Homo sapiens: one gene and its partners. The protein of the gene in region 1 purifies or fractionates together with the protein of each later gene. This does not show direct contact. Each region holds a gene or a part of one and is shown on either strand. Other genes may lie near its edges. The genes, in order: PTGDR2, ANKRD13C and JKAMP.

Region 1 (4,232 bases):
GGGTTCAGGAGCAGCACATTGTAGTAGCACATAATGCGCCCGTCCAGCCGCGAGATGGTGTCCCGGAACACGAAATAGGGCACCGTGTTGAGCACCGCTAGTGCCCAAAGCACCAGGCAGACTTTGTGCGCCGCGGCCACGGTGCGGTGGTTCTGCGCCCACACCGGCCGCACCACCTGCAGGCAGCGGTCCAGGCTGATGGCGCTGAGCAGGAAGCCGCTGGCGAACATGTTGAGAAAGAAGATGGAGGAGTGCAGTTTGCAGAAGGTGGTGCCCAGCTCCCACGAGTGGCCCACGGCCAAGAAGTAGGTGAAGAAGGGCAGGGAAGCAGAGGCCAACAGGTCGGACAGCGCCAGGTGCAGCACCCAGGTGGTGACCACGGTCTGGCGCATGCGGCAGCCCACCACGAAGAGGATGACTCCATTCTCCACCAGGCCCAGCAGCGAGGCCAGCCCGTGCAGCAGCACGGCCGCGTGGTCGATGTAGCGGATGCTGGTGTTGCTGTGGCTCTGGAGACGGCTCATCTGCTCCAGGATGGGGCAGAGTGGCTTCAGTGTGGCGTTGGCCGACATCGTGGGGCTCTGCAGTGGAGGGAAGGAGGCGCCTAAGTTGGAAGTGCAGAGGCCACCGGGGAACCAAGAGAGAGGCCCGGAGTGGGACCCTGCCCAGGAGATGCCAATGTGACCCACGAATATATTGGGCGGTGGGGGTGGGGGGAATAATATCCCAGCATTGCTGTGCTTGGGCAAGTCATTTAACCTTCCCGAGCCTTTTTCTGCCTCTGAAACTTGGATGTCAGTCATAACATCACCTAGCTCATAGAGTTATTGGGAGAATTAAGTGAGTTTAATACATAAAAGCATTTAGAACATGGCCTGGCACAGAGCAAGCACTTTATCAGTGTCATTGTGATGATTATGGAGCAAATGGTCTAAGATCACACAGAGAAAAAGGAACAAGGTCAGGCCACACAGGACTCCTTTTTCCCATCCCCAGAGCACTGGCGGGTGAAGGAGGCCCCACAATTAGGGCAAGAGGATTCTGCTGGCCTGGGCGATGGAGATGCTGCCCCTTCCCACAGCATCCACAGCGCCCCCAGATGTTGCCTCTCTACAGATCCTCCATGCAGCTCCCCGCACTCAGTGGTGGCTGGTTAGATGTGCCGACCATAAACAGTGGAACCAGCCCCTCCTCTGATGGTTGGAGAGGAAATAAGATAAGAGCCAGGAGAGCTGGGGAGGAGGAACTCCCACATGGGGCTCTGGAGGCCCAGTGGGGCCAAAAGATCTCTCCCTTCTCAGGAGCAGCCACAGCAGCTCTCTCCGCCCCAGGAAACCCACCCCTGTTCATTCACTTACTCCATCATGCACTCATCCAACAAATAAGACGTGCATGCTTACATCCTCATTGAAAGCCCGAAAGACCATCTGATGTGAGGCTGGTCAAGACCAGTGAGGGCTGAGGAAATTCCATGAGGCTCCATGCAGGAGGTAGGAGGCAAGTAGCAGGGGACAGGGACTCAGGGTGTCCTGGGCACCAATGACACTCCAGGTACTATGGTAGGTCCTTCACATAGGTGCTGTCTTTCTGGCTCTAGAAAAATGGTGCTAGTACTCCATCCTATTTTACAGATGAGAAAACTGAGCCTCAAGTGGTTAAATAACTGGCCCAGAGCCACCCAGACAGCACAAACATGTGGAGGAGAAAGTTTCATGCTCAGCCTGTGCTCTTTCCTCTACCCCTACTCCAAGGAAGAGAGGATGGAGGAGGAGGAAGAAAAGCGGGAGAGGGGAGCAATGGTCTTCAGTACTCATCTTTCTAGGGAAAACACTGTTGGCCAGGATGAGAAAACCCACTCCCTTCCAGAGACCACAGTCCTTTGTAGAGTGGGGTTCTGGAATATCAAACTAGAATTCTGCTGGCGGAGGAGCCCCTTGGAGCTAGAGACCTGCAGGTAGATGGAAGAGGAGCCTGTGCTTCCTGAGAATGGTCATACTTCCTAGGCTTTAGAATGTGCAGAGCAGTTACTCTTGCAATGAACCTATGACACCCCATTTTTCAGAAGAAGAAACAACAACTTGCCCAGCGTTCCTCAGCTGCAACAGTGGGGCTGGGACTTCACTCCCAGCAGATAGCCAAGTACCACCCGCTGTCTGCCCTGAAACATTCCCTGCAGACCAGCTGCTGCTGATCCAAGTCCTATGGGGATGATCAGAGAGCACAGTCCTGCCACACCCTTGGGCACCACCAGATCAGTCCTTCTAACTCTATAGAGACAGCCCCCAGCCTCCCAGGATTCTCAGGAGCCAAGCAGCTAAGGTCCGGCTTTGGCAGGTTAAGAAAAAAAAAAAAAAAAAGGGACAGAGAGTGCAAGCTGTGGGAGTCCAAGACCTGGGTTTGAATCCCAGCTCCTCAGCTTCCTGGCTGCGTGACCTTGGGCCAGTTACTCTAAGCGTGCTGGTGTCATCTTCCCACCCAGACTGCTTGTGAATATTGACAGACAGTTGAGTGGTTTCCCCTCGTATCTGACATCTAGTTAATGCCTAAGAGAAGCTAATCCTTCCCTCCTCTGAGCACCAAGTCCCCTCCAGTCTTTGGTAAACTCAATCTTCTGCCATCCTAGCTGGTAACAGCCCTCTCACCTGGTAAAACTTTGCCTTCTTCTGTGGGTCTAGAGAGGGCACTAGGCTGCCCAACCCCTGGGCCACTCCTCCTTACCTGGGCACAGAGGGAGCACAGGATTCCAGCCCTGGAGGCAGTCAGCTCCTGACAGCAGCTAGACAAGAGGCAGCGGGCAGACAGAGGTGGGAGAGGGAGGCTGAGAGAGGAAATAGCTGTCAGCCCCAGTGCATGTGTGTTTAGGGGTGGGGTTGGGGGAGGCGGGGACAGCTGGAGAGTGAGTTGCCACACAGATGTTCAAATATCATCAATTTCCATCAATGCCGGCAGCCCCTGCTCCACCCATCCCCGCTTCATGAAGGAGACTGCAGAAGTCCAGAGGGCAGTGCAAGTGCACGTGAAAAAATCGATGTGTGCAAGAGAGTGTGAGCCCGAGTGTGACTAGGGGTGTGCTTTTGAGAGTGACCAGTGTGTAGGATAAGTGCGTGAGAAGGAGAATGTCTCATCCATCTGTCCACTGTTCCTGGGCTTCCATCTCCCGACACCAGAATCCTCAGAGAAGAAACCCCTCCAGCTGTTCTGAGTTTCCCAGGCAGTGTGGGGGCCTGTCCATGAGGGACCCGAGGGCTCTAAGGCCAGGAAAGTACAGTGGGGTAGTGGGGGCAGTGGCAAGAACGCAGTCCAAGAGGTCAGTCACTTCTGTTTGCTGAGCCCTGGGGTTGTCATCTGTGAACGGGAGCAGTAACATCGGCCTTACAGGCTGTGGTAAGGGTTGAATGAGATGGATTGCACAAAGCTCGTGGCACACAGTAAGTGCTTATAAAAATCAGCTTCCTTCTCCTCTGAGGGAAAAATGAATATAGGCTCTAAGGCAAAGGTCATATAGCTTTTATTTAAAACAGGCTCAATTTTGGGAGGCCGAGGCGGATGGATCACTTGAGGTCAGGAGTTCAAGACCAGACTGGCCAATGTGGCAAAACCCCTGTCTGTACTAAAAATACAAAACTCAGCCAGGCGTGGTGGCACATGCCTGTAACCCCAGCTACTTGGGAGGCTGAGGCATGAGAATCGCTTAAACCCAGGAGGTGGAGGTTGCATTGAGCCGAGATCACACCACTGCACTCCAACCTGGGTGACAGAGTAAAAACTCCATCTCAAAAAAAAAAAAATGGAAATTTAAACTAAAAAACAAAAACAAACAAACAAAAAAACACACAGGCTCAAAGCCCTAGGATAAGAGAAGTTTGCATTTCATTGTTCCCTAACTCCTTACTCTCATTTGCTGACCAAGCTTCCTGGGGTCAGGACCATCCCTTCAACCTCAGCATCTCAGCACCTAATGGATACTCATTAAAACATTTTAAGAACTCAATATCCCTGTATCGAGGCAAAGGCACCTCCCATGAGATGGACAGCACAAGCATCTTCCATTTAGGCCTAGTCTTAACGCAGAGACTAATGCATAATACGCTCTTGCTGAGAGGCTACCATCATGAGTGGAAAATGAGTAAAATGCTATGCCCTTGTGATGGGGATAATACATCTCACTGTAGCCCAATATGGCAGATCAGTAAGAGCCTTGGTGATCCAAATCATTAACAATAGGAAAATGT
Region 2 (3,725 bases), on another chromosome or scaffold:
ACAGTATGTTTATTTTGGTTTATTCTGTATAAATCTCGTATCTTCCTTTTGATATTTTTTTCTCTACTTTTAGTCACTAAAACCTTCATGATGGGTGATACAAAAGAATAATATGTAATAGATCTCTTTTAGAAGAGGTGACTATAAAGCTAATCTCTGCATGGAAAAAAAAATTTTAGCTACTGGTGAACAATTTTAACCAGGAGAGGGTTAAAATGATGGCTTGTGTTTAAAAGAACATTAGTAGTTTTATGTTTGTTTGTTTGCTTTGTGTTTTGTAGGTTTCTTTTTAAATTTTGTTTTTGTAGGATAGACCTCAGTTTCCCTTAGGAAGAAAGTGGTGTCTAGAGGCTCAAGTTTATAACACATTAAAGTGTGTTATACCCCTTACCTGGGTGTGGGGGTGATTTGGTGGTGAAATGTTACTCCATTGATCAGGGTTGATTTAGTTGATCTTCATTATTAGATGAATGTCATCTTCCTTCTTTCTTGTCTTTCTTCCCCATGTGCATCTCCAACAGAGTAGGACTGTCCTTGGGTTAAGTGGCTGTGTTTCCTGATGGTGTCACCATTAGTACTATAGAACTTCACCCACTGCTTACAAATGTTGTGATAAGAACACATCTGCAGAGCTATGTCTTAAAAGGGAGGGAGGATCCTCTTCTCCCCTTTTCTGCACTGGGCTGCAATAGGAATAGAAATTCTTAGCTTTGGCAAAAAAGGTAGCAGAAATGGGTGATTATTGGTGATGTTGGGTCCTGGGCATCCTGAATTCTAGAGGACTCATTGGAGAATTGAGTTTTCGGTAGGATAGCTGCCCCAAGTTAATGCCATTCTTAAGTCATAGAAATCTACTTTAATTCAAGAGTACAGTGTAATTATCAGAATGCTTGGGTTCCAGAAAATGAGTGCAGTTCCTAGAGAATTGGATGGGGGCCAGGCAGACAAACAATATGGTTCTGTTCCTACACCATTTATTTTCTTGAGGGAGAGCTGGGTGATCAGTTTTAGAGCAACACTGAAGTATGTAAAATAGGGATAGGAAAAAGGGAAAAGGTCTTTCGCCTTTTCTGTATTGATCAGATCTGAGTTTGAGACCATGCTTCTCTATGAACTGCCTTTTTTTTTTTTTTTTTTTTTTTTTTGAGACGGAGCCTCGCTCTGTCACCAAGGCTGGAGTGCAGTGGCGCGATCTCGGCTCACTGCAAGCTCCGCCTCCCCGGTTCACACCATTCTCCTGCCTCAGCCTCCCGAGTAGCTGGGACTACAGGCGCCCGCCACCACGCCCGGCTAGTTTTTTGTATTTTTTAGTAGAGACGGGGTTTCACCATGTTAGCCAGGATGGTCTCGATCTCCTGACCTCGTGATCCACCCGCCTGGACCTCCCAAAATGCTGGGATTACAGGCGTGAGCCACCGCGCCCGCCCGACACAATTTGATTTTAAAAGGCTCACTCGGGCTGTTGTGTGAGGCAAGGGTCAGTATAAAAAGCTACTATAGTTGGGGGAAACTGTGAGGGTGATAAGAAGATAGAGCTGATAGAAGTTGATGCTGGATTTGATGTCAGATGATATGGTGTGTGTATTTTAGTAGTATATTAGCATTTTTGAGAGAGAATGCAGAAATTATCCCCTTTTACTGCTTGCTTGGATCAGACTTGAAGGAGTCTGTAGAACCTGGAGCTCTGTACTAGTACTTGCAATTTCCTGCTTTGTTCTATAGTTAGGGGGTGCACAAAGTCGCAACTATTTTTATAATATCTAGTCATTGCTTGCCTTTTTCACTGCAGACATTTTCATTGGTGGTTCAAAAGCACTGGTGAGTAAAATTGTTGACATCTTAGTGCAAGTCAAAGTAGCAAACTGGGCTGGTAGTCATTGTATTGTTCACTGCCATGCAAATTAATTTTTAATTTTTAAAAATTAAAACAAGGCCATTTTACTTAATGTTTTTGATGAAACTGTAAAAATTATGAATTTTATTACATCCTAATCTTGAGTACATGCTTTTTTGGTATTTGTGACATAATTGGGATTGTGCCTTTTGCTCCTCTGCTGCATACTGACTGGGTAAATAAGGGAAAGCATTGTTAAACTGAGTGGGGAAGCCAGGCACAGTGGCTCACACCTGTAATCCCAGCACTTTGGGAGGACGAGATGGGAGGATCACTTGAGGTCAGGAGTTCGAGACCACCCTGGTCAACATAGTGAGACCCTGTCTCTATTAAAAAGAAAGAAAAGAAAAATAGAAAAAAAAAGTATTAGAAAAAAGTTTGAGGGGTATTTGAGTGTAAGCTGAGCTAGCCACCTTTTTCATGGAACACCATTTTTACTTTAAAGAACAGTTTACAGACAAACTATAGTTAATCACAGTTTGAATATATGGCAAATATTTTTTGGAAAATAATGAAGTAAACCTATGACTTCAAGGAAAACAAGTGACAGTTATTTGTTGTGAATGAAAAAATTGAAGCTTTCAAATGAAAAGTAGAAATTTGAAGAACTTATCTCTACCATGGTAAGCTTGATGGGTTCCCAGTACATAAAAGACTGTTCTAGTCAGATTGGAGGTGATATTGCCAAATACGGTTTTTTTGCTATTGTACAGTGAAATATGTCAACATTTGAAGATTTCCATAACCTGGTCAACCGGTGTTTTTCAAATATCAATGCATGGTGTTACAGAATCATGCATCAGTACAAGATCCATTCAAAGCACAAGACAGACCAATATATTTCAGTGTAATACAGTACAAAAAACTTATTTATATGATTTTAGATTTCACATTGCAATCTTTTTTTTTTTTTGAGACGGAATATTGCTCTTCTTGCTCAGGCTGGAGTGCAATGGTGCGATTTCGGCTCACCGCAACCTCTGCCTCCTGGGTTCAAGCGATTCTCCTGCTTCAGCCTCCCGAGTAGCTGGGATTTCAGGCATGTACCACCACGCCCGGCTAATTTTGTATTTTTAGTAGAGACGGGGTTTCTCCATATTGGTCAGGCTGGTCTCAAACTCCCTACCTCAGGTGATCTGCTTGCCTCGTCCTCCCAAAGTATTGGGATTACAGGAGTGAGCCACCGCGCCCAGCTGTGCAACCAACTTTTAAGAAGTGAATTTTGGTGTGTAGCAAAGAAAAATATCAGAAAAGGTTATTAAAATACTCCCACTCTTATCAACTGTGAATTTGTGCAAAGCATATATAAAAACCTAGCTGCTGTCTTCTGTTAAGCCAGACATTAAAGAAACATAATTTATTTTTATTTTTAATTAAATAATTTAAATAGACTGCTCATGTCACTTATTTGTTTTGGAAAATGTAGTTAATTTTTTCATAAGAAATTTTATATTAACACGTAGTGAGTATTATAGTTCTAAAATTAATACATTTAAAATTTTAAAAATCTTAATTTCTAATATGATAAATATCAATAGATATATCTATACAAAAGGTTTTGTGATCCTTAATAATTTTTAGAAGTATAAAAGGAGTCCTGAGATTCAAAAGCTTGAAAACTGTTAATACAGTAAAAAGAATATAAATTTTTGTGTCATGAACTGTCCCAGTTTCTAGGTATGTAATTTTGGAAAATAACTATTATTAGGTCTATTTTTCTTCTTGAGAAATAGGAATAATATTTGTTTCATAGGATTATTGAGCAAATTAAATGAATAAGGTATCAGAAATATACAGCATAGTGCCCAACACATTTAATAGATACCCATTA
Region 3 (3,725 bases), on another chromosome or scaffold:
AGTTTTTATCCCAACTGTATTTCTGCTTCACAACTATTCTGGTTAGTTTTGCTTATTTTTGAATGATATCACACTAATGGAAGTCTTCTGAGATTTTTTTTCTACTCAAAATTACATTTCCAAGTTTCATCCATGTTATTGCTTATAGCTGAGGTTCAGTCATTTTCGCTATTGTGTTAGGATTCCACTGTGTGACAATACTGTGATTTGTTTATCCATTCTGTGGTTAGTTAAATGTGTTGCAAATGTGTACCTGTTTGTGGGCTCAATTTTCACTTTCTTTGTGAAGCCTTTTTATAAACATGTTCTAAATTTTAATACACCAGGCTTTTATTTTTTTTTCTACTTAGCAGTTTAAATGTTTTAAAAAGTCCTTCCACACCCTGAGATGTGTGTGTATCTCACACACACACACACACCCAAATTTTCTTCTAAAAATTTTAAGGTTTTGCTTTTCACATTTATCTTTAATTCACCTAGAAGAGATTTCTGTGCCTAACGTAAGGTAGGATCTAACTTTACATTTTCCCATTTGAATTGCCAGTTGTCCCAGCAGCAGCATTTTACTGAACAGGTACTCCTTCCCACCCCTACCTTCCCAACTAATTTGCCATGGCACTTCTTTCATATAAAGTTTCATATATAATTGTCTGTGTTTTGGGTCTCTATTCTGTTTCTTGAGTCCATTTATCTATTCCTGAGCCAGAAGAATAATATGATCATAATCCTTGATGTCATGTACATTTTTTCTACTTCTTTGGTGGTCTTGGCTATTCCTGGCCCTTTGCTCTTCCATATAAATTTTAAAATTGGCTTGTCAAGTGCTCAGATAAATCCTATGTAACTTAATGGTCTGAGCTATGTCACAGTACTTGTACTGTACATGGAATATAGGAAATAGTTTCATATATTTATCTTATAGTCAACCTTTTTATTAAACTGTCTTGTTATTTCTAATATCTAGTCTATAGGTGATTTTGAGTTTTCTACTTGAACACTGTTTCCATTATGTATCATTGCATAGCAAACTACCTCAATACTTAGTGGCTTGAAACAAGAACCACTGATCATTTCTCACTATTTTGTGATGTGACTGGGCTCAACTGGGCAGTTCTTTCTGCTCCACATGGTGTCAATTTGGGAAGCACTGGTCTAGAGGCTTGACCATGCTGCAGCATTTAAAAGGACTAACTCACATGGCTGCAGTAAGTGCTGGCTGTTAGCTGGAAGCACAACCAAGGCTGTTAACAGGTGTGCCTTGGTTCTCTTCCATATGGCTTCTCTTTTGTTTTCAGTACTCTGCAGTTTAATTATGATGCATGCAGGTGTGAATTTCTGTTTATTCTGCTTGGGATGTGTTTTCCTTCTGGGATCTGTGAATCGGTTTCTCATTATTTTTGTAAAACCTGAAGCCAGTTATCTCTTAAAATACCAGCTCTCCTTGGCTGGGCGTGGTGGCTCACGCCTGTAATCCCAGCACTTTGGGAGGCCGGGGCGGGTGGATCACGAGGTCAGGAAATCAAGACCATCCTGGCTAACACAGTGAAACCCCGTCTCTACTAAAGATACAAAAAAATTGGCCGGGCGTGGTGGCAGGCGCCTGTAGTCCCAGCTACTCGGGAGGCTGAGGCAGGAGAATGACGTGAACCTGGGAGGCGAAGCTTGCAGTGAGCCGAGGTCGCACCACCGCACTCCAGCCTGGGCAACAGAGCAAGACTCGTCTCAAAAAAAAAAAAAAAAAAATAGCAGCTCTCCTTCATAGTCTCTATTTTTCCAGAGACCCTAATTAGATACTTTGGGCAAAGACTTAACAAAACATTTATGCTGTGCATGAGAATCTGGGCTTCAGGTAACTCTCTAGCTCTTTTCCTCTGGAAGCCTGATAAGGATAGAATGTCAACTATATTGCTAGGCAACACTGCTTATGATACAAATGATCCTTGCCTGGTAAATTATATCTCGACTGGGGAGAACCATAAATGAACTATAAATGCCTGATGGGGATACCATGGTTTGGCTTTCTTGAGTTCAGTGACTCTTATAATTGGCATGTCACTTGCAGGACCCCAGAAGTTCATGGAATTGTTATAAGAGAGACTGGCTTCTGTGAGGTGTAAGACTTTAAGCCTGGACCACTCCCACACCTACCCAACATGGATCTCACCTTCTTGCACCTGATTTTCCATCTCCTTCTTTCTCAGTGCAATATTCCATTATTTCTATGCATTTTTTTCTAGTTCACTAATTCTATCTTCAACTGTTTAATCTGCTGACTACCTTTTTTTTTATTTTGGCAAGTATAAACTTTCATTTCTAAAAGTTTCCTTTTCTTCCCCATCACATGTATTTATTCCTAATAATCTTATTGTTATGGACAGCTTGTGACTACATCCTTACTTTCTTTATAGGTAGCAGTTACATATCCTGTAGGTGAAAGTCCATTATCTGTGTCCTCTCAGAGCATAAATATATTGTTTGTTGCATGTACCAATAAGTCCTAGTGCTATTTTATTTAGTAACCACAGACTATGAGGCCATTACTAGATTTTAATGAGCAAGAGTCTTACAGGGTTAAATTGAGAATGGGGAAGCTTTCCAGCAAAGAGGCTCTGCTACTTTTGTCAGCAGCCATGGCCACTACTACCTTAGGCTTCAGGCCCTTGAGGGTCTAGTCTTAGCAGAGGCTACCCAAGATTCAGTATCCAGATAACACTGCTGCTACCAGCAATTGACCTCAGACAACCCTCTCATCCCAACTGCCTGCCTTGTCACTCTGGCCTAACTCAGGGTGGGCTGGTTTGTGTTTTGAAAGAGAAGAGTTCCTGGAGATCTCTCCATCTCCAGCTGGGACCAGCAATGTCTCACATAGTTTATCTTTCCCAGACTTTAGTTATTTCATGCAGGTGGGTCACTTGGAGCTCCTAATTAACTCACATTGTTGGAAACAGAACTCCTGTGCCATTTTACAAAGATGAAAACACTGAAAACATAAACACACATTCACATTACATAATTTGACATTTTGCTTCCTTATAGAATTAATATTTTCAGAGGCAAAATCCCAACTTCATTATTTCTTGCCATTACTTTGATAACCTTCTTAACTGGTCTTCTTGTCATGTTCTCTTTCAACCTATCTACAGCCAGACACATAATCTTTACAAAATGAAATACAATTTTAGAACTCCTCTCATTAAACTAATTTTGAGTCTTTTTGTCTTTCTGGAAAAATACCCCCACCAGCATCGTCTTCTCTATTTCCTGGCCATGCTAAATGACTTTAAGTTCACTTGTGCCTCCACACATCTGGGCATGCATCACCCTCCACCTCAAACACATTTTACCTATCTGCCAAACCATGCATCCTTCCAGATCAGCTCAGGGGTTATCCCCAGTTTTTATGAACATTTGTTAAGACACCTCCAGCCCCCATCTATCTGGACTGTAAGTGCAAAATTTCAGGAAACTGTAAGAGATGGCCCTTGTGGTCCTTGTTACCAATTTCCTAGGCAAAGCACAGTTGTACAACTCCCTCTTTTTAAACCCACCTCCTTTCCTGTCTGAGCATTAGTCACTCCTCGCCTTCCCTCAAACCACCCTCTAGTCTCTGCTTCAAGTCTCTCCCTCAAAACATAGCTGACGTCTGAATTCAAACGCATTTGGTGAAGACATACCTATGCCTGTTAGCTCTTCTTTACTGTGGGCTGAGAACTTCCCACCAATTG

Evidence for each region.
Region 2: the proteins of PTGDR2 (region 1) and ANKRD13C purify together in Homo sapiens (affinity purification with western blotting, with the first as the bait; one study listed by BioGRID). This does not show direct contact.
Region 3: the proteins of PTGDR2 (region 1) and JKAMP purify together in Homo sapiens (affinity purification with western blotting, with the first as the bait; one large-scale study listed by BioGRID). This does not show direct contact.

The regions. Positions count from the first base shown.
Region 1 is NC_000011.10:60,853,151-60,857,382, forward strand, and holds the start of PTGDR2 (prostaglandin D2 receptor 2), read right to left. Parts: upstream 2,801-4,232; 5' UTR 2,719-2,800; intron 582-2,718; 5' UTR 573-581; coding exon 1-572.
Region 2 is NC_000001.11:70,344,512-70,348,236, reverse strand, and holds part of ANKRD13C (ankyrin repeat domain-containing protein 13C), read left to right. Parts: intron 1-3,725. UniProt on the Homo sapiens protein: Acts as a molecular chaperone for G protein-coupled receptors, regulating their biogenesis and exit from the ER.
Region 3 is NC_000014.9:59,490,816-59,494,540, reverse strand, and holds part of JKAMP (JNK1/MAPK8-associated membrane protein), read right to left. Parts: exon of another isoform or gene 3,675-3,725; intron 2,981-3,674; exon of another isoform or gene 2,490-2,980; intron 1-2,489. UniProt on the Homo sapiens protein: Regulates the duration of MAPK8 activity in response to various stress stimuli.